Linked DNA regions of Homo sapiens. The protein of the gene in region 2 purifies or fractionates together with the protein of the main gene of each other region. This does not show direct contact. Each region holds a gene or a part of one and is shown on either strand. Other genes may lie near its edges.

Evidence for each region.
Region 1: the proteins of ZNF318 (region 2) and CEP170 purify together in Homo sapiens (co-immunoprecipitation; one large-scale study listed by IntAct). This does not show direct contact.

The regions. Positions count from the first base shown.
Region 1 is NC_000001.11:243,245,135-243,248,786, forward strand, and holds part of CEP170 (centrosomal protein of 170 kDa), read right to left. Parts: intron 1-3,652.
Region 2 is NC_000006.12:43,363,055-43,366,706, reverse strand, and holds part of ZNF318 (zinc finger protein 318), read left to right. Parts: intron 1-1,266; coding exon 1,267-1,415; intron 1,416-2,487; exon of another isoform or gene 2,488-3,292; intron 3,293-3,652.

The sequences.
Region 1 (3,652 bases), on a different chromosome or scaffold from region 2:
AAGTGAATATAATGTATGTGTGCAAAAGGCACACATACAAGCAACTCAGATCAGAAATACAATGGCCAATAAGCACATTTTAAAAAAATGTCAAGTGTTATTGATAAAAGAAATTTAAATAAGGTTTTTTTTTTTGGTTGTTGTTCATCAAAGTGGCAAAACTGTCCAGATTGGGTGGCTCATGCCTGTAACCCCACCACTTTGGGATGCTGAGACAGGAAAACTGCTAGAGCCCAGGAGTTTGAGACCAGCCTAGGGAACAAAATGAGACCTTGTCTCTATAAAAAAATAAAAAACCTTGGCCAGTGCGGTGGCTCACGCCTGTAATCCCAGCACTTTGGGAGGCCAAGGTGAGCGGATCACGAGGTCAGGAGTTCAAGACCAGCCTGACCAACATGGTGAAACCCCGTCTCTACTAAAAATACAAAAATTAGCCAGGTGTGGTGGTGTGTGCCTGTAATTCCAGCTACTCAGGAGGCTGAAGCAGAAGAATTGCTTGAACCCGCGAGGCAGAGGTTGCAGTGAGCCGAGATCTCGCCACTTCAATCCAGCCTGGGCGACAGAGCAAGACTCCATCTCAAGAAAACAAAACAAACAAACAAAAAACAAAAAACAAAAAACAAAACAAAAAAAACACAAAAAAGAAAAGAAAACAAAAAAACTTAGATGGGCATGGCAGCCCATGCCTACAGTCCCAGCTACCTGGGAGACTGAGCGGAGAGGATCCCTTGAGCCCAGGAGGTAAAGGCTGCAGCAAGCCATGAACACACCACTCCACTCTAGCCTGGGTAACAGAGCGGGACCTCGTCTCAAAAAAAAAAAGAAAAAAGAAAGCAAATTTTAAAAAAGATACGTAATATTCAGCACTGATGAAGGGGTGAAGAAACACACAGTTTCATATGCCAGTGGTAGAAGAATAAACTGATATAAACTGGAGGGGGTAATTTTATTAAAAAGTTAGAAAAGGTTTAATTAGTAGAATTCTGCATTTGTATCTGCATTGTATTTTAAGCATAATTTGTTGAAATCAAAGAAAAACATTGATTTGCACAGAAATTCAGAGTTAGAAATGTCCATTACAGTGTTGTTTACTTTTTTTTTTTTTTTTTTTTTTTGAGACAGAGTCTCGCTCTGCCACCCAGGCTGGAGTGCAGTGGAGCAATCTCAGCTCACTACAACATCTGCCTCCTGGATTAAAGCGATTCTCCTGCCTCAGCCTCCCGAGTAGCTGGGATTACAGGTGTGCACCACCACGCTCAGCTAATTTTTGTATTTTTAGTAGAGACAGGGTTTCCCCATGTTGGCCAGGCTGGTCTTGAACTCCTGACCTCAAGTGATCTGCTGGCTTCGGCCTCCCAAAGTGCTGGGATTACAGGCATGAGCCACTGGGCCCGGCCTGTTGTTTACAATTTTAAAAATACATTTAATTTTCATAAATTGTGTGTAAGTAGATTACATGTTTGAGAAGACAGATTCTATGCCACATTAAAAGTTAGAGCCAGAAAGTTTAACTTCATGATAAAATGTTACCAAATTAAACCAGAATAGACAAGAATACATAACAGGGTTACTGGCTAGTGGGATTATGATAGTACTTAATGGTAGAAAATCTTGTTTTCTAAATTTTCTGCCATGTATTAGGATTAGATTTGTAATATAAAAAATAAAATGGCCTTCAATTTGCAATGCATTATATGCATTTTTTATCCAAGGAGAAGTATTTAATGACCAGCCATAGCAAATCATATTATATAAGGTCTGCAAGATACCTATGTATTGTGAAGTTATAGTCCTATTGCCTCAAAAAGCTTACCACAAAAAGTCCTGTATTTGCGATGTTCCTTTTTCACCAAAATAAGTATTTTGCACTTTACCCCTATTATCATCAAGCAGACTCATTTCCCCCACCCTCCTGCTTCCTCAAATCAGTTTCTAGCTGGCTGCCTAGAGTTCAAAACCCCTAACCAGTCCCTAAGCTTTGAATTTGCACTTTTTCTATTCCATGTAACATGTGACAAACCATTACTCAGTTGAACACTTTCCAGAAAAAAGTCAGTTAAAAGAAGAAAGTCTTCCTGGCTGGCCTAGGGAAAAAAAAAGTAAGGAAGCCTTTTAACTTGCTTACTTTTCTACCTCAATTCTCTTTATTTAGACACTGTTTAGAATTAAAGGATGAGTTTAGGATTGGGAAAAAAAGCTATTATCTCAAAGCCTGGTTGTTCTTTTCTTTCTTTTTTGAGATGGAGTCTCACCCTGTTGCCCAGGCTGGAGTACAGTGACGTGATCTTGGCTCACTGCAATCTCCATCTCCTGGGCTCAAGCAATTCTCCTTCCTCAGCCTCCTGAGTAGCTGGGATTACAGGCCTGCGCCACCACGCCTGACTAATTTTTGTATTTTTAGTAGAGACGGGGTTTCACCATGTTGGCCAGGCTGGTCTCGAACTCCTGACCTCAGGTGATCCACCCGCTTCGGCCTCCCAAAGTGCTGGGACTACAGGCGTGAGCCACCGCGCCTGCCCTGGTTGTTCTTATCCTCTTTCTAGCCCTTTTCTCTACCCTCAAGAATATTATAAAATGATGTGCGAAACTGCCTATCGGGATAGAGTGCATAGGAAGTAAAAAACTATTCCTACAGACTCAAAATGAAAAATATTTTTATTTGCCAACATAGTTCTTCAAATCTAACACTATCAAGTTGGTACCACACTTGGGGCAATAAGGGAAGGAGACCCCTATCTGCAATTATACCTTTCATTTGGTTTTTACATCTACCTCGTTTGGCTACCACAATAAACCTCTGAGGTAGCTGGACTATCACTAGCTTCCTGATAAATTCTTCCTATGAAACAGCATCGCTTCTCCTGTTCAAACATCAGAGGCAGCAGCAGCTGCCATACTCATCCACGTAGGAAACAGCATTGGCCTCTTTATGAGTAAAACTTTGTTCAGGGCTTTAGATTTAGTAGTTGCCAGGGGAGAATAACTGTGAACATTCATGTTGATAAACCAGATTTAAAAAAGGAAATTGCTTTCTCAGAGACCATTCAGAAAGAAAGAGGATACTGCCTGATTTCTTATGAAGTATTTAGGTGATTAAAGGTGATACAGGGGACTGATCACTCCTTATCTCTAAAAATACTTCCTTTACTTGGCTTGTGGGACAACACACTCTTCAGTTTCCTCACACCCCACTGTCCACTTTTCAATCCTCCTCGATGGCGCCTTCTCTTTTGCTCAGCTTTCCATGTGGAAAGTACCAATTCTCAATTCTTGGATCTCTTCTCAGTCTAACTCCCTAGCCAAGAGATCCCTTTAAGTCTACTGGTGATGCTTAACATTTAACTATCCTCAGTCCAAACCTCTCCTCTGAATGCTTGACTTACATATCTAACTGCCTACCTGATGTGTCCACTTGGGCGTTTAACAGACACTTCAAACTTAACATATCCAAAACATTTGACTCTCTAAAGCCAGAAACTAGTAACTTTCACTATTGCCACTACTGTCGCTCTAGTCTAAGCCATTAATGTCTCTTAAACCAGATCATTCCAATCATTTCCTAGCTTATCTCATGGTTCCCAGTGTTTTAAAGAATTCCCAGAGCCATTCTTTAAAAATATAACCCAATTTTTTGGCTTTGCTCAAAATCCTC
Region 2 (3,652 bases):
AGCATCCTGAGTAGCTGGGACTACAGGTGCGTACCAACATCCCAGCTGATTTTATTTTAAAAAAATGTTTTGGTGTGGGGAGGGATTTCACTATGTTGCCCAGGCTGGTCTCAAACTCCTGGCCTCAAGTGATTCTCCTGCCTCAGCCTCCCAAAATGCTGGGCTTACAGGCATAAGCTACCATGCCTGGCCCGGGGAGTTAAAATTTTTGAGAGTAGTCAGGGAAGGCCTCCTGGGAAGGTGATTTTTGAATAAAGATCTGAAGGAGGTGAGGGTGTGCTGTGCAAGCATCTGGAGGAAAAATGTAGTCAGATGATGTCACTATCCTGTGTAAAACCCTCCTATAACTGTTAATTGCACTAAGAATAAAATCCAAATTTCCCAACTGTGCTTTCTGCCTATCTTTTCCTCTTCTGTCACTTTGCTGCAGCCACACCGGCCGCTTTTCTGTTACTTAAAGTATACCAAGCTCTATACTGAGGTGGTTCTTTTCTTTGCCTGAAACATCTTTCTACCTGTTCTTTGCAAAGCTGACACCTCATTCTTCAGGCCTCAGGTTATCACCTGAGAAAAACCTTTTCTAACCATCCTATCTGAAGTAACTCCTTTTATGGTACCATGTTTTAATGACTATAGCACTTACCAGAAGAATTTTTTTTTTCTTTAAACTTGTTTTTGGCTTACCTCCTTCACTAGAAGTATGTACACTAGAAGTAGGGTTCTGAGAGCAGGGACTTTATTCACTTCTCTTTTCCCATGCCCAGTAAGAATGAGAGGTCACCGTTTAGGAGAGTTAGAGGTATGGGCTTATATCTCTAAGAAAATGATAATTTTTAAAAAGTGCTTTATTTTTGGTATAGTGTCTTACCATAACCATTTCTCACCTTGTTGAACCCCAACTTTGCAGGGTTGTCTTTTGTTTTTGAGACAAGGTCCTGCTCATTGCCCAGGCTGAAGTGCTGTGGTGCAGTCATGGCTCACTGCAGCCCTGACCTCCCAAGCTTAAGCTATCCTCCCACCTCAGCCACCTGAGTAGTTGGGACCACACCTGGCTAATTTTAAACTTTTTTTTATAGAGATGGAGTCTGTGTTGCCCAGACTGGTCTCACATTCTTGCCTGGGCCTATACACCTCAGCCTCCCAAAGTGTTGGGTATACAGGCATGAGCCACCATGCCTGGCTAACTTTGTAACTAGGGAGGAGAGTTTTTGGATGTAGGGATGTCTTGACCCTATTGACTAACCATATTATCCTTTACTTTTGTAGAGACGCTCTCCTGGTCTGTGTTCTGACTCTTTGGAAAAGAGCTTAAGGATCACTGTTGGCAATGACCACTTCTGTGTTAGCACACCAGAACGGCGACGGCTTAGTGATCGGCTGGGGTCACCAGTGGATAATCTGGAAGACATGGACAGGTAGGCATCACCTAAGGCAGGGCCTACTATACTAGTACTTGAAGGCAGAAATGTTGCTGTTTTCCGAATGATATATTTGAAAGGATGGTGCCAGCTCTAAAGTTATTTCCTATGCCACATGTCCAGTACAAAATAAAACGCTGGGATAGAATTTCTAAGTGGGAGGAGTATAATGATGTGTAGACTCTGTTGTTGAATAAATTGTATAGAAAAAAAGACTTTAAAAAGGTCATCTGAGTCTGACTAGAAAGAAGAGGCTGAGGGGACATAATCAGAGTCCCCCAAATGAAGAACAGTTGAGATGGTATAGATTCTAAAACAGTGAAACTATGAGCAGTCCCTTCTCCAAAGAAAAGTTCTGGACAAAATGGGAAGTCTTTTTAAAATGGTGTTATTTTTTAGTTTATCCAGGCTGAAACAGATTCAGAAAGGGTTAGGTAAGTTCATGTCTAATATATGTGTGTATGTGAAGTAGATAAAGTATTAATAGAAAGCTAGAGACCTTCAAAAATGTTTAAGTTCAGTTATTATTTTACAACTATTGAGTGCTGAGGAAGGGTAGATACACTCAAGAGAGTTGGATATAGACCTCAGGTACTAGGAACTTAACCATATATAGATTGTAAATAATCACATTAGGTGTTTTTCACCTCACAAAAGTCAAAGTATGGATGGGAGTTCAGGAAAGCACTCTTTCTCAGAGCTGAGACCATGACTGTTATGGTCTCTGCCCAGCACATTGGGAGTTTTGACAAATGATTAGCAGTAGCAATAAATCAATGTAATGTAATTTCAAACTGAGACTGTCGCTTGCCGTGTTGCACAGAGCATAGCTAGGCGGGTGGGGGAGAGCTGGGCAGGAAGTCTGAGGACCAGTTTTGCCGTTGGTAATACCTAAAAGTTCCATTGGCTGTGGATGCAGTGAAGCAAGGCAGAACAGTCTTTTTTTTTTTTTTTTTTCAGGCTTAATTCACTTTATATTTCTTGTATAAAAACCCTATGTTGTAGCCACAGCTGGAGCCTACGTCCTCTGCACAGAGACTCTGGTGTGTGTCTTGATGAGGTGGTCAGTGAATTCCTGATAGGGAGACTTGGTGAATCCTGTCTCCTTCCAGAGGTCGGGGGTCAGGTAGCTGTAGGTCTTAGAGATGGCATCAAAGGTGGCCTTGGCGAAGTTGCCCAGGGTGGCAGTGCAGCCCCTGGCTGAGGTGTAGCAGTCATCAATACCAGCCATCATGAGCAGCTTCTTGGGCACGGGCTGAGACGATGCCAGTGCCCTTGGGCGCAGGGATGAGGTGCACCAGCACAGAGCCGCAGTAGCCTGTCACCTTGCAAGGAACGGTGTGGGGCTTGTGGATCTTGTTCCCCCAGTAGCCTCTGTGCACAGGGAGAATGGAGAGCTTGGCCAGGATGATGGCCCCGCAGGTGGCAGTGGCCACCTCCTTGGAGCACTTAACACCCAGACCGACGTGGCCATTGTAGTCCCCGATGGCAACAAACGCCTTGAACCTTTTCAACTGGCCAGTGTGGGTCTGCTTCTGCACTGGCATAATCTTCAACACCTCATCCTTGAGAGAGGCCCCCAGGAAAAAGTCAGTGATCTCAGATTCCTTGATGGGCAGGAAGAAGAGGTAGTTCTCCAGGGACTTGATCTTTATGTCCTTAACCAAGCAGCCCAGCTTGGTGACAGGCATCCACTCCTTATCCTTGGCCTTGCCTCCACGAGCTCCGTGGCCTCAGCCCTGTCCACAGCTGCAACCCCAGCCCCTCCATGGAAGCCACCACGGTTTCCCATCCCAGGGCCCCCGGGGCCTCTGCCCCCGCCCCACCCCCTCCACCGACATCATCTGCCATTTGGTGTTTTCTCAGAGAAGAAGCAAGGCAAAATAGTCTTATGTCATATAACATTGAAGCTTCTAAAGGGCTTCAAGATATGTGACTGTATCACTTAATTGAGGCAATAGCCCTTGCTCTTCTGGCTGCTTCTGTTTGGGGAAATTATTGAGTAGGTAGTCTGGGTAGGTGGTACATAGTGTGATTGTCTTCATTCTTTGCTGAGGTTTTGAGTTAGCTTCAGCAGTTCTTCTTAGGCCTAGGATGTCACTTCCCCTTTGCATAAACTTTGTTATGCACATGTGCTTCAGATAGAACTAATTATATTTTTAAATTACAAAAATTAAAATTTTTCCTCTTAAGGAGTTTGGGGCAGCAGTCTTCTTTGTAGAATCATGTGTTTC